Linked DNA regions of Homo sapiens: region 2 is linked to region 1. The links come from fine-mapping of genetic effects on gene expression. A gene starts in region 1. The other region holds a variant in brackets. All regions are shown on one strand. Distances are from middle to middle.

The links. PIP is the estimated chance that this variant, and not a neighbour inherited with it, causes the effect.
Region 2: its variant is fine-mapped to the expression of PLXNB3 in cerebellum (GTEx, PIP 0.93).

What each region holds. Positions count from the first base shown.
Region 1 is chrX:153,756,698-153,767,290 of GRCh38, reverse strand. PLXNB3 (plexin B3) reads right to left here and starts at 3,042. Exons shown (of 36, transcript NM_005393.3): 1 at 2,987-3,042; 2 at 1,711-1,820; 3 at 1-418. The coding sequence starts at 1,755. PLXNB3-AS1 (PLXNB3 antisense RNA 1) reads left to right here and starts at 820. Exons shown (of 3, transcript NR_199696.1): 1 at 820-908; 2 at 3,442-3,581.
Region 2 is chrX:153,022,565-153,033,330 of GRCh38, reverse strand. It overlaps the pseudogene LOC112268308. Among named protein-coding and RNA genes, the nearest start is that of PNMA3, 29 kb to the left of the region's middle. The variant C/G (reference allele first, on the strand shown) is at 5,802.

The sequences.
Region 1 (10,593 bases):
CCTGGTACAGCACCTCGGCCACATCCCCAAGGCGCCGTGTCTCACACACGCCCTGCCGCACCTGCCCGCAGGCCACCAGCTCCTGGGCGCGGCTGCTCACCAGCAGCAGCTGGTTGGCATTGTCAGTGAGCTGGGCCTGTGGGCACTCGGCTGGGTCACGGAAGGGCACGCAGTCAGGGCTGTCGATTACAGGGCCAGTGACAGCCACGGCCTCGAGCTGCAGCTCGGGGCTGAGCTGGAAGAGGCGGTTCACTGCGCCGACATAGAGTGTGCCTCGGCCAGGTGCCAGTGCCAAGTGGTTGAGAGTGGTATTAGGTGCGGAGAAGCGATGGGCCCCTGTCAAGGGCAGTGGCGGTGGGGACAGCAGCAGCAGGAGGAGGCAGAGGCCGAAGGGAGGCCAGCGAGCCATCACGGGGGCCTGTGAGAGGGCACAGGTCAGGGCAGTGGGAGCGCAAGGCAGATAGAGGACCAGAGGAAGGTGGAAGGTGGGGTGGACAGAGGCCAGGGTGCTCAGGGCCAGGGAGGGAGGGAGGCAGAGAGATGGAGAATGAGAGAGAGTGAGCGGAGACAAGGAGACAGAGGGGGCACAGAGAGAGGGGGACATAAGGAGGGACAAAGACAGTGTCCAAGAGCTGGAGCAAGAGGCAGGGAGGGGTGCATGCACGCACGCACAAGCACACAAGGACAGAATTCTTTCATCTCCTACTTTATATGCATGTAGATTGTTGAAGGGGGGCAGGTCCTGGAAAGCCGCAAGAGCGCTAACAGAGGGACTGTGAGTCACAGAGGGGGCAGGGATGGAGAGAGGGCAGGGGAGGGAGGGAGGCCGCGGGAGCTGGAAGGCTGGCGGAAGCTGTGTCACAGCGCGCCCCTGCGCCCACCACCCAGACAAGAGAGATCTAAGTCAGGTGAGAGGAGTGAGGCCACCGTGTGCCCCAAGGGACCAGACAGGGAGAGAAAACCTGCCTTGGGCAGCCAGGGCCGGCTGCAAGGAGGAACCCTCCGCAGCTGGGGGAAAGAGCCAGGCAGCCGCGGGCTGAGCAAGGAGCAAGTCAGCGAAGAGGCAGGGGTGAGCTCCATGCTGGCGCCCAGCTCCAGGGCGAGGAAGCACTGGGGCAAGGCAGCGGGGGTGCTGGGAGAAGCCAGGGGTGTCAAGAGACAACACAGGCTTCAGGGGTGCGGGGAGGCCTGCTCCTGCCCCATGGGCCCCAGCAGTTTGGGTCTCTCAGGGCCTGGCACAGGGGGCCTCAGTGTAGGAGTGTCCCAGGAGAAGAGCAGACCAGGAGAGCTGGCTGGGGGAGGGGTCAGGGAAGGGGCAGGGAGGGGTGCCAGACTGGAGATGGTTCCTGGGTGTGCCTGGTGGGACCCCGGGGTGAGCCCCCGAGGGTGAGAGGTGGGAGCAGCCCCTTCTCTGGCCCCTCCTGCCCTCCACAGAGAGATGCTGCCCTGGGTGTGTGGTCACATGCCGACCAGGAGTGGGGCCGCTGCGACTCAGGGCAGAGCAGCGCCTGGAGGAAGGCCCAGGAGCCGCTTATCTCAGGAACACAGGCAGGAAGAGCACGGACACTTCCTGCGGACCCCGGGCTATCTGGGGCAGTGTCTGCCATGAGGGAGGCTGCAGCCTGTATGTCCTGGGCCTGGCCACAGCCATCCTGCCCTACCCTGCCCCTCCCAGGAACATTTCTGGGGACACCGGGCCTGGGCACTTACCATGAAGTGGTGCAGCAGAGGGGTCTCCTGGGCGGCGTGGCACATACGCTCAGTTCAGCTGCCCCAGGGCAGTGGCGATGGGCATGAGATGGCTGCGGGGGGGCATTGTCCTGAGTGGGAGGGAGACAGTCGAGGCTCAGCCCCATTCGAGCTGGCCTGGGGAAGGAGGGGCGGCGGTGGGGGTGGCGCCCAGGGCCTAGCGACCGGGCTCCCTCACAGCTGGCAGCTTTGTCAATAGTGGCCAGGCCAAGGCAGCCCTGCCTCCACCACAACAATGTTCCCTCTGTCCAGAGGCCAGGCCAGGGCCCCACTCGCTAGTGCTGTCACCCCCACTGGGCTGTTCTGGACAGGGGGCTCCTTGCCACTTCCCACCCTCAGGGAGCCACCCCCGGGATCCGGGGACAAAGGGCCGGGGTTTCCTCCAGCCAGCCCTCCCCCTCTGGCCCTGCAACCCCTGTGTCACTAAGCATGCCCCTCCCTGGCTCCCCGGGTCCCTGTGAAGGGCACGGGGTGGACCTTGGAGCCCCTGCAAATGCCGGCTGGTAGCCTTGGGGCCTGGGTGAAGTGCCAGTCCTGGCCCTCAATGCCTGCCTTTGTCCAAAAGATCTTCCTCCACACCCCCAGCCCAGCCCTGCCCCTGGGGACTGGTGAAGTGGTGCCAGGTACAGCATGGTGGCAGCGAGCAGGACCACGGGAGGAGGCTGCTTGAGATGGGCTGAGGCAGAGGGTCCACAGGCCGGGGCTGTCCACCCCACCCTCTGAAGCACCGTCCTGCTGGCCTAGATGCCATCCATGCAGGGGATGGGGAAGGGAGGGGCACCTAGCAGCTAGACCCCCTGTCACCCTCACAGGCCACCCTGGCCAGTGGCACAGGAGCAGGTGCACTGGGGATGGGGTCTCTGCCTCCCCCACAGCACGGCAGCAGTAGGCTCCAGGGCAAGGTGGCAGTGGGCTGCTGTCACCTGGCTGGGCCAGTTGGGTGGCTGTGGGGGTGGGGAGCCAGGCGGGCAGCCTCTCTACCCTGTACCCTGCCCGAGGCTGGCGTTGGCTTTCCCATTTCGGGGAAGAAACATGGTTCCCCACCTCCTAACCCCAGGGCTACCACTTGGGGGACACCGTGCTCCCAGACACCTAGTGCCGTCGTCAGGCTGGGCCGACACCCGAGCGCTCTTGCCTGACCCCAGCCAGTTGGCCCTGAGACCCTGATGCCTTGCCCTGAGGCTGGTAGCCCCTGCACCCCAAGCCCAAGCCCAAGCCTGCCCCAGCTCTTGCCTACCTGGTGGGCCACCGGCGAGGGCCAAGTAGCAGCTGGCGGTGCCAGGAGCACGTCTCACAGAGCCCCAGCCTCCCTCCCCACAATGCAATCGTGCCCAGTCCGACTCATCCCAACAAGCCCGGCCAGGCAGCCCAGCCTCTCTCCGCCCGCCCCTTTGCCCAATGGCACAGGGCAGGATGTTGCTGCCCTCTGCTGGCCGCAGCGGGCATGATGGAGTACTGACCGTGGGCACCTGGCAGGTGAGAGACGGCAGCGCCCTCCTATTGGGTGGGCATTCCATAACCTGGCACGAAGCACCTACTGGATGCCAGGCTTGGGCTTGGCACTGGCACCATCCAGAAACAAACACAGGTTGGGAAACTGAGGCACAGGAGGTTAGGAAACTTGAATAAAGTCACACAGCTAGTATGTGGCAAGGCTGAGTCAATCACAGGGCCCCTTCACTTAACCGTCAGGCTACATGACCTTGAACCATGAACCTTGGCAGGCGTTGGGCAGGAGATGGAGCTGAGGCCTACCCCAGGCCAGGCCTGGACGTGACATGCCCACGTGGCGTTGAGGAAAAACCAGTGTTTCCCACCGACTGGAACACAAGGTTGGTCAAGGGCCGTCTCCCAGGGTGTGGCGGAGGTCAGCAAATCAGGTGGGGTCTTTGTGGCCAGGCTTGAGAACTTGAACTTGTCTCGCCATGGGCAACTGCAAGCTGGTGGCACTGGGGCAGAGAATGTGGGGAGGCCTGGTCCAGTGGTGGTCATGGGCATGGAGAGAGGCGGGCGCGTTCTAGAGGCGCTCTGGGGAGGCAGCATTCTGAAGACTGTGCGTTGGACCCAGGGCAGGAGGCGAAGGCAGGAGAATCCAGGCGACCCTGGGGCTTTTCTGCTGGGGCACTGTTCCCCCTGTGGCAGGGCCATCCACAGAGGGGCTGGCGGAAGTGGGAGGACGGTAAGACTGAGGGGCCCATGAGGGAGGAGGAAATGGTGATGGGGCTGGGGAGGCCTGGGGGTGAGAAGCTTGGCTCAGGTGGCTGGAGCCCTGGGGGCGGCCAGGGTATAGGGCCAGGTGTTGGCCCTGGAGCTCAAAGGCCCAGCAGACTCGGGGTATGGGTGCTTCCCTGAGCAGCTGTGTCATTCTTTCCAACCTGCATGGAGAGAAATGGGGCACAGAGGTGGGTAACTTGCCCAGGGCCATGACCTGACGTCGTTTCTTCAGAGTGCATTCCACAGAGATGGGATTTGAACCTGGGCATTCTGGCACGGGCCACGCTCTGGACCACTGGGCCCCAGATCCACAGCTTCTCACCTGCAGCCGCTGAGGATGTGGAGGCAGACCAGGCAGGCCCGTGGGAAGGACCACCAAAAAGCGAGTGAGCAGCCGGCGAGGGGTCTCTCCCCAACAGGAAGGCCAGGCAGCCTTGAAGGAGCCAGGGAGGGATTTAGAAGCTCCAGGAGGGGAGGCTTGGGGGAGCCAGCTGGCCTCTCTCCCTCTCCCTGTCCTTCCCCCCATGCCTACCCCAACACACACACACATGTCCTTGCTGGCCCCGGATGAGACAGACGCCTGCAATCTGGCATGGGGAATGGGTTTCTCCTTCCTTTCCACAGAAGAAAATAAATCAGGCTGGGCGTCGTGGCTCCCGCCTGTAATCCCAGCACTTTGGGAGCCTAAGGCAGCAGGATCACTTGGGCCCAGGAGTTCTAGACCAGCATGGGCAACATAGTGAGACCCCCATCTCTATAAAAAAATTTAAAAATTAGCCAGGCATGGTGGTGCGAGCCTGTAGTCCCAGCTACTTGGGAGGCTGAAGTGGGAGGATCGCCTGAGCCTGGGAGTTGGTGCCTGCAGTGAGCCGTGATGGTGCCATTGCACTCTAGCCTGGGTGACAGTGCAAGACTCTGTCTTTAAAAAAAAAAGAAAAGAAAGAAAGAAAAAAGAAAATAAATCCATCCACAGGCAGCACCATTTTCATAAATATGTGTGTATATGGCCTGCATATGCACCTTCTACGCTTTCTGAGCAGATAAGAGGCGTGGCTATGGCAGCCCCTGGTCTGAAGCTGGTGTAACCAGAAAGGATCTAGGCTGGTTTGGGGAACCGGAACATCTTATGTCAGGGGAGTCGTGCTGGATTTATCCTGCAATGGCCGGGTCCCCTCACCAAGGGATGGGAAGGCAGCGTCAACTGATCTGGTGTCGTCTCCTTGCTGTGTGCCAGGCTTCTCAATGCTGGAAGGGGACTCGTTGGGTCAGTGGGACGTGGGCTTCACGTTTGCTGGGCTGAAGACGTAGCTCTCCATGCTGGCATCCCAGCGGACACCCCCACTGCCACTGCTGCACCACGTCTTCACGTACACCAGAGAGCAGACTTGAGAGTTTCTGCGCATACAGTGGGTGTGAAATGGTGCCCTGCTGGGTTTTGAATCGGCATTCCTTGACCACCGGCCATATTGCAGCACTTTTCATTTCTTCTGTCAAATGCCCGTGCATGTCTTGGCTTACACTTTGCAGGTGTTCTGTATTTTCCACACCAATCCCTGGGGTGTATGTCTTCGGCCTACCTGTTACTTGTCTTCTCAGTTTGCTGATGTATCATGTGATAAACAGAAAGTCTTAATTTTAATATCATAGCATTTATCAATCTGATTTCTTTTTTTGAGACGGGGTCTCGCTCTGTCGTGCAGGCTGGGGTGCATTGGCGCAATCATGGCTCACTGAAGCCTCCTGGGCTCAAGTGATCCTCCCACCTTAGCCTCCCAAACACCTGGGACTACAGGCAGGCGCCACAGTGCCTGGCTAATTTTGTAATTTTTTTGTAGAGACAGGGTCTCGCTATGTTGCCCAGGCTGGTCTCAAACTCCTGGACTCAAGCGGCCCTCCCGCCTTGGCTTCCCAAAGTGCTGGCCCGTGAGCCTGTGAGCCACTGCGCCTGGCTACCTTCTTTTGAATTCCCATTCAGACTGTGTGTTGCTGGTACATAGAAAAACAATGGATTTCTATGTATCAAGTAACCTTGTAAACTCTCATATTAAGTCTAATAATTATGTTTGGGTTCTCTTTGTGGATTCTTTTTGATTTTCTGCGTACACAATCCTATCATCTGCAAGTAATGACCATTTTGTTTCTTCTATTCCAGTCTTTTTAGCTTTGATTTCTTTTTTTGAGGCAGAGTCTGGCTCTGTCACCCAGGCTGGAGTATAGTGGCACAATCTTGGCTCACTGCAACCTCCGCCTCCCTGGTTCAAGCAGTTCTCCTGCCTCAGCCTCCCAAGAAGCTGGGACTACAGGCACCCACCACCACGCCTGACTAATTTTTGTATCTTTACCAGACACAGGGTTTCACCATGTTGGCCAGGCTGATCTGGAACTCCTGATCCACCTGCCTTGGCCTCCCAAAGTGCTAGGATTACAGGCGTGAGCCACTGTGCCCGGCTGATTTCGTTTCCTTGCTTTACTTCCCTGGACTTGCTTTCTCTTGCTTTTACTTCCTTTGAATGAAAGCATAGGAGGCGCTGGGCATGGTGGCTCACGCCTGTAATCCCAGCACTTTGGGAGGCCGAGGTGGGTGGATCACCTGAGGTCAGGAGTTCGAGACCAGCCTGACCAACATGGAGAAACTCTGTCTCTACTAAAAATACAAAAAAATTAGCCGAGCATGGTGGCCCATGCTTGTAATCCCAGCTACTTGGGAGGCTGAGGCAGGAGACTCGCTTGAACCCAGGAGGCCGAGGTTGCGGTGAGCCAAGATCGAGCCATTGCACTCCAGCCTGGGCAACAAAAGCGAAACTCTGTCTCAAAAAAAAAAAAAAAAAAAAAAAAAAAGCATAGGAGGCATTCTCAGTGTTCCATTATTAAGTATGATGTTTGCAGGGAGCATTCGGTAGATATGTTTATCAGATTTAGAAAGCTCCCTCCCATTCCTAGTGTGCTATATGTTGAATTTTTATAAAATGCTTTTTCTGAATGCATTAATATGATCACAGGGTTTTCCTCCTCTAATCTGTTAATGTGGCAAATTACATTAATTCATTTTTAAATGTTAAACCACTCTTGTATTTTCTGGACTAAACTCAACTTTGCGTGATGTATTTTTTTCATATACAATTCTGGATTGGGTGGTTTTTTTTTTTTTTTTTAGCCTCGTATTATTATCCTCGTCTGGTTTTGGTATCAAGACATCGTAAAGTGAGTTGAGGCAGTATTTCCTTTTTCAGCTGTTCACTGGAACAGTTAGTCTAAGATGGAGATGATCAGTTACTTCCATGTTTGCTGGAGATCATCTGTAAAACCATCTAGGCCTTCCTTGTTTTTTATTTTCTGTTTTTTGTTTTGTTTCTTTTCTTTTCTCTTCTTTGTTTTTTTTGTTTTGTTTTGTTTTGTTTTGTTGTTGTTTTGAGACAGAGTCTCACTCTGTTGCCCAGGCTGGAGTGCAGTGGTACAGTCTTGGCTTACTGCAACCTCTGCCTCCTGGGTGCAAGCGATTCTCCTGCCTCAGCCTCCCGAGTAGCTGGGACTGCAGGCATGCACCACCACGTCCAGCTAAGTTTTGTATTTTTAGTAGAGACGGTGTTTCGCCATGTTGGCCAGTCTGGTCTTGAACTCCTGACCTCAGGTGATCTGCCTGCCTCGGCCTCACAAAGTGCTGGGATTACAGGCATGAGCCACCGCATCTGGCCTGGCCTTCCTTGTTTTTGTAGCTTCCTGCCTGTCCCCCTATAGATTTTAAACAATGAATCCAACTTCTGTAATAATTATGGGACCATTTAGGTTTTCTGTTTCTTCTTGAGTAATTTTTTTATTGTGGGAAAAAATACATAACACAAAATTTGCCATCTTTTTTTTTTTTTTTTTTGAGACAGGTCTTGCTCTGTTGCCCAGGCTGGGGTGCAGTGGCATAATCATTGTAACCTCAAACTCCTGGTCTCAAGCAATTCTCCTGCCTCAGCCTCCTGGGTAGCTGGGACTATAGGCATTCACCACCATGCCCAGCTAATTTTTAATTTAATTTTTTTTTTTGAGACAGATCTCACTTTGTCACCCAGGCTGGAGTACAGTGGCGTGATCTCAGCTCACTGCAACCTCTGCCTCCCGGGTTCAAGCAATTTTTGTGCTTCAGCCTCAAATTTTTAATGTTTTTGGTAGAGATGGGATCTTGTTACTTTGCCCAGGCTGGTCTCCCATTCCCAGACTCAATCAATCCTCCTACCTTGGCTTCCCAAAGCACTGGGATTACAGGTGTGAGCCACCATGCCCAGCCTCCAACTTTATTCTTTTGCATGTGGATATCAAGTTTCCCCTATACCATTTGTTGAAAAGACTGCCCTTTTCCCAATTTGTAGCCTTGATACCCTTGTCAAAAATCATCTGACCATATACTTGAGAGTTTCTTTCTGGGCTCTGGATTATATTCTGTCTCTGTCTTTATGCCAGGACCACACTGTAATATGTTTTATTTTGTAAATCAGGAAGTGTGAGTCCTCGAACTTTGTTCTCCTTTTTCAGAATTGTTTTGGTTATTTGGAGCCCCTTGAGATTCTATCTGAATTTAGGATGAATCATTCTATTTTGAGTCAATTTTTGATAAACAATATTTTTCTAGGAACATGCTTTTTTTTTTTTTTTTTTAGACAGAATCTAGCTCTGTCGCCCGGGCTGGAGTGCAGTGGCATGATCTTGGCTCACTGCAACCTTTGCCTCCTGGGTTCAAGCAATCCTCCTGCCTCAGCCTCTCGAGTAGCTGGGATTACAGGTGCCCGCTACCACGCCCAGCTGATTTTTGTATTTTTAGCAGAGACGGAGTTTCACTGTGTTGGCCAGGCTGGTCTTGAACTCCTGACCTCAGGTGATCCACCTGCGTCGGTCTCCCAAAGTGCTGGGATTACAAGCGTGAGCCACCGCGCCTGGCTGGAACATGCCCATTTTGTTTAAGTTTTCAAGTTTATTAGCATAAAGTGTTTTGGTTTTATTTTATCATTGATTTATTATTAATAAATGTCTTGGGTCAAAACCAGATGACGTTGCTTAATGTTCATTTATTGTTAACCTACAAAAATTGCAGTTTCATCTTGTTCAATCTAATACACACGGAAGAGCATATGCTGCTTAGATGAATCATCCCCACTGACAGCCATCATGGACCCTTCTTTTTCCCTTCGCAGTTAGTCCTAGCCTTTCCTTGGTTTTCTTTATACTTGTCCCAAATATGAATTAGCCTTAAACAATAAATTATTTACTTTTGCAACAAATTTTTTGGTTTTATTTTTTTAAATGTGTTAACTAGAATCACCATGCTGTACATCAGATCTCTGGAACGTCTCCATCCTGCATAACTGAAACTTGGTACCCTTTGACCAGCATTTTCCCATTTCCCCTACCCCAGTCCTGGCGGCCACTGTTCTGCTCTGTTTCCATGAGGCTGACATTTTTACTTTCCACGTGAGCAGCGTCATGCAGTATTTGCCTTTCTGTGCCCGGCTTACTTCACTTAATGTAATGTCCTCCAGGTTCCTCCATGTTGCAAATGGCAGGATTGCCTTCTTTTTAAAGGCTGAGTAGTGATCCATTGTGTATCTGTACCACATTTTCTTTATCCATTCATCTGTTGGTGGGCATTTCGTTTGATTCCATATCTTGGCGATTGTGAGTAGTGCTTCAATGGACATGCGAGTGTGGATATTGCCTCGACATACCGATTTCATTTCCTTTAGATACATACCCAGAAATGGGATTGCTGGATTGTATGGTCATTCTCACTTTAAATATTTTGAGGAACCACCATGCATACCATTTTCCATACTGTTCCAAAATGTTCCCTTTTCTCCACACCCTCGCCAAAGTTTGTTTTCTTTTGTCTTTTTGAAAACGATCATTCTAATTTGAGTGAGGTGGTGTCTCATTGTGGTTTTGAGTTGCATTTCCCTGATGATTGGTGATGTCGAGCATTTTTTTCTTTTTTTAAGATGGAGTTTTGTTCTTTCGCCCAGGCTGGAGTGAAGTGGCGCGATCTTGGCTTACTGCAACCTCTGCCCCCCGGATTCAAGTGATTCTCCTGCCTCAGCCTCTGGAGTAGCTGGGATTACAGGCGTATGCCACCACACCTGGCTAAGTTTTGTATTTTTAGTAGAGACAGGGTTTCACCATGTTGGCCAGGCAGGTCCTGAACTCTTGACCTCAGGTGATCCACTCACCTCGGCTTCCCAAAGTGCTAGGATTACAGGCGTGAGCACTGCACCCGGCTGATGTTGAGCATTTTTTTTTAATAGACCTATTGGCCGTTTGTATGTCTTCTTTTGAGAAATGCCTGTTCAGGTCCTTGCCCATTTAAATTGGGTTATTTATTTTTTCAATTTTCAATTTTTAATTTTTAGGAGTACATAGTAGGTGTAACTGGGTTATTTTAACTGGGTTAGAAAATACATTTGCTTGCTATTGAGTTGTATGAGTTCCTTGTGTGTTCTGTGTATTAACCTTGTATCAGATGGATGGTTTACAACTATGTTCTTCCATTCCATAGGCTGTCTCCTTCACTCTGTTGATTGCTTCCTCTGCTGTGCAGAAGCTTTTTAGTTTGATGCAAACTCATTTGTCTGTTTTTGTTTTGTTGCCTGTGCTTTT
Region 2 (10,766 bases), 730 kb after region 1:
AACCAGAGCAGTTCCCACCAATCTCTTGTCCTTGGTTTCTACCTTTAAACAAAGAGAGACTTCATGATCTCTGGGGCTAGGGAAAGTAAGGCTCCACTGCCCTGCAGGATGTCAGGATGACGCCACCCCCATGGCGCTCCCTCATCAAACTCCTAGGGAACAAAGTCCCTCCTCACTGAGCCCCACAGACGAGCCCCGGTCAGCCCAAGGGCCCAGCATGGTTGGAGGGTCCAGCTGCCCTCCCTGTCTGCACGTCCACACCCCCTTACCCTGGACAGCCCTGACGACCGTTGTCTGGTGTCCCAGAGCCATGGCCGCCAGGGCTCCCTGCGAAACAAGCTCAGGCCACAGGAGCCCCGTTCGGCCCCCGCGGGACCGCGCTCCCTCCCGCCGGCGACGGTCCACGCGCGGTCACCCCAAGGCCACTCTGGCCACGGCTGCAGACCTTGAGCGTGGGAAGGGGCAGCCAGCTCCTCGGGCCCATTCGTGATCCTCGGGCGTCCTCTGGCGGCCAGAGCGGGCGTGACCTCAGGAGAATCCCCGCCGAGGCCGAACTCGCCCCGATGGCCGTTTCGCTTTGTGGACGGTCGCATTTTCCCAGCGGGCACTGCGACCGACTGTGACTGTGGTTCCGGGTATGGTGGTTGCACGCCTGTGGTCCCAGCTAGTCGGGAGGCTGAGGCGGGAGAATCGCTTGAGCCCAGGAGGTCGGGGTTGCAGTGAGCTATGACAGCGCCACTACACTCCACCCTGGGCAACAGAGCGAGACCATTTCTCAAAAAGAATAAAATGACAACCGGAAATATACGACCGTGCTGTCGCGGCTGCAGGAAATGGCGGCGTGCCCAGGCGCACTCATGACGGCTGCGTGCTCGTCAAGGTGCACAGGCGCGCACGCGTAGCGTACACTGGTGAAAGTTGCGCATTTGGACAGGCGACACGTCCTGCGCCCGCTACCCAGACTCTGGGGAAGGCAAGGGGTGCCGCTCTGTTCTACTCCTTTTCCTTATCCATCTCTTCTGTCTTTCCAAAGAGATGGTGAAAGCTCCACACACAGGATAAACATGAGGAACTGAGGAACAGTTAAAAAGATGTCTATGCTAGAGCTTCAACCCAGGCCTCCGCCCCAGCCTGCTGTCCCCTGCCTGCCCTTCCACGTCTTATGCACTTCGTTCTGGGAGCCTCCATGCATGCCCTGGGGAGCAAGCCACACATTGCCCTCGCACGGCAGTGTTCCGTCAACTGGCACCATCCAGCATGTTCAGCTTGGTTTCTTTCCTCATCCTCATAAGCCACTGACTCTGGGTTGGAACCACCATCGCAGTTAGGTCATTCTCTACAATCGCTGGCCTACTATGCCCTGACCGTATCCCAGTGAGCACAATAGGGTCAGAATTCCAGGCCACTGTTGTCCCCCAACTTCCATTTTATCCCAAAGAGACCTTTCCCACTAGTTTCCCACAGCAGAGGCGAGACCGGCTGGAAAATGGAATGAAATTTATTGAAGAGAAACGTGTACCGAAATCACTGAAAAGAAGGGAACCACAACACAGAGAGAAACTGCAAACAGCCACTACAGGACACAGGTCCTAGGATCCCTCCTCCTGGGGTTCCTGGCAAGGCGCCTCGTCTACCCCCGTCCTGCTGCCGACCCCACTGCTACCTCCCTCCTTCCCGAGGGCCCCAGGGCCCGCCTCTTGCCAGGACGTGGACTCTGGCAGTGTCCACCGGCTTCAGGGAGCCCCCTCCCAAGCCCATCTGCTGGGGCAGGGCCCTGCCCTATAGTCATCACAGACAGTCACAGGACACCAGTAAACACAGCAGGGAACAGCCCACCAGGTCGAGGAAACAGTCACAAGTAACAACAGGGGTGGAATGCCAAAGCATAAAGCTCTCCTGGGAGCCTCAGGCAGGGCAGCCCCACTCCGTCCCGGGTCCGGCTCTTCCTCCCACAGTCATGGTTACCATCGTGGTCACAGGGTGAGCATTGGCCGCGCCCTGGTTCCTCCTTCCCGCCATCTCCTGGGTCTGTGCTGGGGGCCTCCGGGGAGGAGCAGCTCAGAGAAGAACACACACAGCTCCACGAGAACAAGCAGCCACTGGCCTAGATCTACACCAGGAAAGCAGAGGTGGTGTTTAAGATGCAGGACAGACAGCAGTGAGCAGAACCTGGGCTCACAGGAAGCTCACAGCACATGCCCCGGGCCTAGTGGCGGCCGCCCGGGTGGGTGCACAACACACAACTTTGCACAGGAACGACAGCTAGCAGTGGGTGGGCGTCTGCTGGGCGCGTGGGTCACTACGGGGCCTAAACAGGTGAGGGTGGGCTTCCCAGAACAGGGGGCAGCCTGCCCCGGGGACGGCAAATGGGGCAACCCTCTTGGGAGACCCAGGCAGCTGGCACCCTTGAGAGGACCTCTTTCCCCTGTCTCTCCCAACCCAGGACAAGGGGTGGGGGACAGACATCTTCAGGTGCCCCCACCCAGGTCGCAGCTGGCCACTCAGGGCTCCCTCCTGGCCAGCCCCCCAGAGACGGCAGGGTTTGGGGCTGGGGCTGGGTGCAGCACTGGGTGCAAAGCAGGGGTGCCTCCCCCAACCCCATTTGGTATCAACGTGGTCATCTGGGTCACCGGGAAGGGCTGATGGTGGTGGCCAGGGCCCTTTGGAGGGAGGTGGGGGGCCCCGATCCTGATGTGGGATGAGGGACCAGCCCTGGCCTGGCCTCCCCACTGCCTCCAGGATGCTGCGGCCTGAGAGGAGAGGAGGCCCTGGGGCCCTCTGAGCCTATTTGCCTGGGGAGGATTTGGGCTGACCAACCTTCCTGGCCCCATCCTCATTTTCCAACTCCTCCAGTATGAACATAAGACCCCCTTGGGTCGGGGGGCTCCTCAGCCTCCTGGCCTCCTGCCTGGACAAGACCCTCTGGCTCCTTCGAGGCCTGCAGGGGCATTTTCACCTTCCCTAATGGCAGGGGTGCTCCTGGCGGCCTCTTTGGTGGCAGGAGCAGTCTCAGCAGCATCTTCCACGCCAGGGTCAGCCTGGCTGGCGTCTTCCTGGGCTGAGGAGGCCTGAGCAGCATCTCCACAGGCAGGAGCTGCCTGGGCGGCAACTGGATCTTCACTTTCCACTGTGGCCACTGGCCAGGCCACAACATGCTGGCTCCTCACTGGGGAGGCCGCCCACGCCTCCATCTCCTGGATGAGCTGAAGCAGCCCCAGGAAGTAGGGCGGCCTCCTCTCCAGTGCATCCCCCTCAGGGTATTCTGGAGTGCTTCGCCAGGGCAGGCCTGAGGCTGCACCTACCGCAGTCACAGGTGGTTGGCCAGGGCCGGGCAGACGGCCCCCTTCTCCAGGGCCATCTGCAGCAGGCCTTCCAGGCATACCAGGAAGGCAAAGGGCCCCTGCGTTCAGGTCAGGAACTTCAGCCTGGAAGTCATTCGAGGGTCCCGGTTTCCAAACGCCTGCCCCAGCACCGCTGCCCAGCAGTCCAGCAGCGCCTGGCAGTCCAGTGCCGCCAAGTTGGGATCTTCCTCTAGGAGGCCGCTCACAACGTCCAGGGCTGGGCCACCCAAGCTCTCCAGCAGCCATCTCTTCCTCTCCCTTTCCGACGCATGGTACCACAGCTGCAGCATATCCTTGGCGTGCTCCATCCAGCTCTCAAAGGACTCTTCCTCGCAGCCTGGCTGCTCCCTCCCTGAAAAGGGTCTCAGTTCCTGGTAGGCCCTGTTTTCCAGCACAGCCTGCAGGGTGCAGCGCCGAGGCTGGACCCAGGCTCTTGTTACATTTGTCCCTCTTGCCTCACCCACAGCTCCTGCCTCACCCGCAGCTCCTGCCTCACCCACAGCTCCTGCCTCACCCACAGCTCCTGCCTCACCTGCAGGTCCTGTATCACCTGCGGCTCCCTCATCTGACTCTCTTGCCTCTTCTGCAACTCTCAACTCATCTCCAGCTCCTCCCTCACCTGCACCTTCTGCCTCACTTGCAGATCCTCCCTCACCTGTGGCTTCTGCCTCACCCTTACCCACAGCTCCTGTTTCACCTATGGCTCCTGCTGCACCTGCAGCTCCTCCATCACCTGCCTCTTCTTCCTCACCTGCAGCTCCTGCCTCACCTGCAGATCTTTCCTCATTCACACCTCCTGCCTCACCTACAGATCCTGCCTCACCTGCAGCTCCTGCCTCACCTGCACCTCTGGCCACTGCTTGCCCCTGGGGCTATGCAGGGAAACTGGGTATATCCTGAAACTCAGCATCAAGGGCCTGGGGCAGGGAGATCACTTTCCAGGGTCCCCCTTTGCCTGCTATTTGGCGGGGAATCAAGCTTTGGTTTAAACCCTCAGCGAATTCCACCAAGGCTGCCCTGGCCCCGAGCTCCTTTCTGAAGACCTTGATGAGCACTCGGTACCTGCCCAGGGGCGACAGGGCAGCCCGCACGGCCTCCTGGAACTCATGTTCCTCGCAGTCGTCAGGGATATCCAGGATGAGCAGAGAGCGCTCTGCGTTCACACCCATCCTCCTGCACCAGTCCCGAAGCATCGCCAGAGCCATCGCAGAGGACTTGAGGGAGGGAGCCTGATCAGACAGGAATGTGTGCTGACTGTTGCAGTCTCTGACGCAGCCTGTGAGTGCAAAGGGGAGAGAGGGACGTTGCTGCCAGTCAGCCCACCCCCACCGCACAGCCAGAGACCAGCCACTCCCAAATGCAGGGCCTGAAGCATCTCCCCTGCCCAGTGTCACAGCCCATGCTCCCCCACCCCTACTGCTGCAGCTCAGAGTCCTTCACTGCACCCCCCACCTCCACAGCAGGAAGCGCCTCTTTCACCTGGTGAACAGCCCCTGATCACAAAACTTACAGCTGGAGCCCCTCCAACCATCATGTGCAACCCTGCAGCTGGATGTGCCCACCTCCTCTTTTTCCCAGCACTTGACCAGGAGCCCTCTCCCTAATGCCATCCTCCCTGCAACCTGGCAACCCCCTCCCACGCCTCCCACATCAGCAGCCAGGAGTCCCCTTCCCCCACAGCCAGAGCCCCTCTCTCTCCCATCGTCCCCTTCTGTAGCCAGAGGTGCCCTGCAGCCAGGAGCTCACCCCACCCAGACTCCTGCAGCAAGGAGACCCTCCTCCCCTCTCCTCAGGCTCCAGACCAGGACCCGCTGTCGCACCTACTGCCTGGGGGGACAGCGATCTGGCTCCTGCCCAGTGTGCCCTCAGCCACTCTGGGGTCCCGCTGGTGCCTGCTCACTGTCTGCAGACACTGCAACCACCCACGGGGAAATGCCACCTTCAGGCTGTGGAGCCCACTCTGGAGGCCGCCTTGAGGCCCTGGAATGGGAAGGTGGAAGATCGCGCCCCAGCAGCCCATCTGGGACTGCACAGGGCAGGGATATCTCAGGCCAGCTGTACTAAGGGCACGTGGGCTTCCAACTTCTCCCAGAAGCCTCAGATAGATGAGGGAGAAAAATCTCAGAGTCTCTGTGGGAGGCAAATAGCTAAACAGGGGGAGGCATCCGTGTTGCCCTGGGATCGGGACCTGCGCGGTAAGGGCTTGATGTGCCTCCGGGGGCAACAGGCCCAACCATCAAAATGGCCTAGTGGAAGTGTTGAGAGAGAAAGGGGATTGGAAACTGGCAGAGAGGAAGCTTATGCTTAGGGGCAGCGTCTGGAAGCTGGGAGTTGGTGGACAGCCAGGTACTAGGACTCCAGACTAGGTCCCCCAAATCACTACATTCACAGGCCTACCTCCTCATTGCAGGAATCTCCACAACAGGAAGAGGCTAGCTGTTCCTGACTCAAGAGCCTCAT[C/G]ATAGTTCTTAGGCTACAAAGCCAGCCTTCACCACCTAGGAAGCCATTGCATTGGAAAGAGTGTGTACGGCCTTTGGAAGCAGGCAAAGCTGGCTTCACCTAGCAGCTGGGTGGCTTTGCACAAACCACTGAACATCTCTGTTTCTCATCTGTAAATGAGCAATAAGAACATTTTTCTTGCAGGGGAGTCATGGAGCTTTACCTTCTATTAGACACACGGTAAGCCTTCAGTAAATAACCACAAGGGCACAGGAATGAAAAAGGGTGGTGTGGCCAAGAATGGTGTGGGTATTGGAGGCTGGTTGTGGCAGCCAGCTCAGTGGTCCCAGGTCTGAGCTCTGAGAAAAAGCAGGATGTGAGTGGGAACATTGGAACCATTTTCCTGAGGAATGCAAGGATTGGCCAATGTGAAAATATGACTTTCTGTTTCTGCAGGCCTTGGTCAAGAGAGGCATTTGGGAAACTCAGCCAGTCTCTGCCATGTCTAGGACTGGCTACCCATCTGGCCAGCAGCTTTGGGAGTTTCCTGAGAGTGAACCCTTGATGCATCCTTGAGCACTGCTGCACAGGCACCACTGCCCTCACGTCACTTCCCCAGCCACCAATAGGAACAACAGGAAGAGTAAGAGAGTAAGGGTACGAGGGGCAGAAGCAGACCACATGTGACAAAGTGTAGGTGAGGGACTTGCCTGTGAACTCTTGTAGTAGATTTATATATATATACACACATATATACATATACATATACACACATATACACATATATATACACATATATATACACACATATATATACATATACATATACACACATATACACATATATATACACATATATATACACACATATATATACATATACATATACACACATATACACATATATATACACATATATATACACACACATATATATACGTATATAAAAATATATATATAAATCTCTCTCTATATATATATAGAGAGAGAGAGAGAGAGTAGAGAGAGAGAGGGAGAGAGGGAGGGAGAGAGAGAGAGAGAGATGGAGTCTTGCTCTGTCACCCAGGCTGGAGTGCAGTGGCGTGATTTCGGCTCACTGCAAGCTCCGCCTCCTGGGTTCAAGCGATTCTCCTGCCTCAGCCTCCCGAGTAGCTGGGACTACAGGTGCGTGCCACCACGCCTAGCTAATTTTTTGCATTTTTAGTAGAGACAGGTTTTCACCGTGTTAGTCAGGATGGTCTCGATCTCCTGACCTCGTGATTGGCCTGCCTTGACCTCCCAAAGTGTTGGGATTGATTTTTTAATGTCCCTGGTTCTCCATTTGTAATATGATTTCAAAACTCCTTCTATCACAAGTTAGAGTCAGTTTCCCTACCTCTGGAATCTAGGCTGGCCTAGAGACTTGCTTTGGAAAATGGAACATGAGAGAAGTGATGACATGCCAATTACTGTCGATCATGGGTCACATTTCCCTGTTACTTCACATGTTCTGGGTTTTTAAAAGTTGCATGTCAGGCATTGTGCTTCAAAGAACCATAGGGATTAGAGTACACTCTTTCCTTGGTTAGGTACTATAGTTTCCCTGAGGTATATAACTTCAATCCAATCAGAATTCGAGCTGTACCATGGCTTGCATACATCTTTAGTTAGTATTAGTATTAGATTTCAAACACCCTGAAGATAGGATTTGTGTTAAAGGCTGCTTCCTCCAGTTGCTAGAGTCAAGCAGAACTTTGGGGCCTAAATACAAGATTGATTCTCTCTCTCTCTCTCTCTCTCTCTGTCTCACCCCAGCCTGCCATATTACTTCTGTCACCACGCACTCAGAAAAAAAACTCATTAGGAGAATCCATTGATGGGGAGAACTAGGTATGCATTTGGGGCTCCTACAGATTCCAATGTGTCTACCCAGGCCACACAGTCATTAACTGTCTTTATCCCAGCAATTATTGCACCTATGGCCGGCACAATCCTCTGCCTTGTAAGACCATTCTTACCGGAGAGGACAATGGCCATTGATATGTGTTTGTCTCTCTCTGAAATTTAGTTACTTTAGACTTCAGGCAGGGCACGGTGGCTCATGCCTGTAATGCCAGCACTTTGGGAGGCCAAGGCGGCCGGATCACTTGAGTCCAGGAGTTTGAGACCAGCCTGGGCAGCATGGCAAAAACCCGTCACTACAAAAACCCAAAAATTAGCCAAGCATGGTGGCGTGCACCTGTAGTCCCACTTCTCAGGAGGCTGAGGTGGGAAGATCCTCTGAGCCAGGGAGACGGAGGTTGCAGTGAGCTGAGACTGTACCACTTCACTACAGCTGAGGTGACAGAGTGAGACACTGTCTCAATATATATGAGATTTTTGACCATCTGATTTTTTTATAGTTGTTACAATGAGATTAATGCTCTGTCATGACCTACATCCTAACCAGAACAAGTCTACTCCAAACCCACAAAGAAATGGGTCTGGAGTTCTTCTTCTTGAGACATTTTAAGTGATCTCTTTTAATCCTAGAAACTAGGTGGTAGGGGTATTCGGTGCACTTGAAATTTTGACTTGAGAGGGAAGGTGACCCTAGTGGATTTATAATTTCCCTAAGTTCCATTTCTGTAGAGCTAGGGATGTTCATATTGGTGGCTTACTTTTGCTCCCTGGCTTTACAAATAACAAGTGGACACAATTAAGTGCCAGGTTTGTCAATGGGAAAGTTGTGTAGACCTGGTTCATTGGACATTTTTCTGAGATGTATATTGGGTTATCACCAAGTGAGGTGATAACCTCATCCCAAATCTGCTATTAATAACAAAAATTGCATCGTAATGTAGAATGCTAGAACAATGGGATATTGCACAACTAGGCTCGAGGAGTTAATTTGGATTCAGTGGACAAGGTGCATATGCAATTGAGTGTTCAGTAACAAAATTTATCCTAAAACACAGAGGAATTTTGTATCCATATTTATTACCATAATTGTCCACAGTATGTATCAGTCTCTCCTGGAGATACCACATGGTGATAGACCAGCAAGACTGGACATATTTATGCTCACAGAAACATTTTCTGTTCTATCTGCAGTGCTATCACAGCTTACATGGTGGCACCTGGGGAAAGGTAACAAAAGCAGCTGACAGAAATAAGGGACCCAGTGGATAGTGATATAACAGAAGTGAGTAGGTGGTAAGAACTTGGTATAGTGGTATGGCTCCACGGTTTGCACATGGAAAATAATACATATAAGCTCCTAAGAACTGGAACTTCACTACACCCAGTCCTGAGGAGGAAATACTCCATGGCTCTCTCCCTCTGTGGGAAGTGGGGGGACTGTGGCTCCTTTGATACTCATGTTGCACCCACTGAGACCTGTGGTAAAAGTGTAGCTCATCCCAGGCTGAGCAAGGAAGAGCCATTCCTCCAAGCCCAAAGCAGTAGAAAGGATATCAGTCATCATTCCCCACTGGCTGCTGTCATCAGCATATGCACTGAGCTTGCCCAGAGGGCAGAAGACCTGCAACCCTTTCCTCCCCTTTCTTGATAGTGTCCTTAGATGCACGAACGTTTTTGTTTTTGTTTTTGTTTTTGTTTTGTATGAAGTCCAATTTATCTATTCTTTCCTTTGGTTGCTTGTGGTGTCATATCTAAGAAACCATTGCCTAATCCAAGTTCATGAAGATCAACATCTATGTTTTCTTCTAAGAGGGCTGTAGTTTGAGCCCTTCGATTTAGGTGTTTAGTTCATTTTGAGTTTATATAGGATGTGAGGTGGGGGTCTGAATTAACTGTTTTACAAGTGGAAATACAGTTGTCTTAGCACCATTTGTTGACAAGATTTTTTTTTCCCATAGAATGGTTTTGGTGTCCTTGTCAAAAGTTCACTTGACAATATATATACGGTTTTATTTATAGACTCTAAATTCTATTTCATTGATGCCAGTATCATAGTCTTTTTTTTTTTTTTTCGAGACAGGGTTTCACTCTGTTGCCCAGGCTGGAGTACAGGGATACAGTTACAGCTCACTGCAGCCTTGACCTTTTGGGCTCAACCTATCCTCCTGCCTCAGCCTCCTGAGTGGCTAGGAACACAGGCCCAAGTCACTAGGCCCAGATATTTTTCCTTTTTTTTGGTAGAAATGGTGTCTCTCTATGTTTCCTAGGCTGGTATCAAACTCCTGGCCTCAAGGAATCTTCCTGTCTTGGCCTCCCAAAGTTCTGGGATTACAAGCATGAGCCACCGCACCCAGCTCCAAAAAATATTTAGCCTCTCTGTACCATATAAAGACCAGAAGGAAAAATAATATAAATACAAATATAAATTTATGCATAGTAATTAATATTTCAGTATTTTTACTTAGAAATAATCTAGCCATTTAATGAATATCTATTACTTAATTTAGCATAACATAAGGTTGTAAGTTATCCCCTAAAAATTGGAAACTGTTTTTAACCATATTATAAATATTGTTGAAATAAAAGTTATCATCAGAATAATGACTCGATTAAACTCAAATTTATATTCTGTGAAATCTTAAATATCTAACAGATACAGTGTTAACTTTTTGACTAGGAAGCCTATATAAGCTTAGTAAGAACATACCCAGGTAATATAAATATGTATGTTTGTATTATGCTTAATGCTGATAACTCAGAGACATAGCTGTTTTTATTAAAGCAGATATCTATTTACAACTATATCTACATCTATTTAGAGACGGAGTTTCTCTCTGTCATCCAGGCTGGGTTCCAGCAATCCTCCCACCTCAGCCTTCTGAGCAGCTAGGACTACAGGTGCATAACACCATGTCCAGCTACTTTTTAAATTTTTGGTAGAAACAGGGTATCGCTATGTTGCTAAGGCTGGTCTCGAACTCCTGGCCTCAAGTAACCTTCCTGTTTTGGCCTCTCAAAGTGCTAGGATTACATGCATGACCCACTGGGTCTGGCCTTAAGCTAACTCTTCTTTATCAAAGATTTACTAAATGATGTGATGTTGAG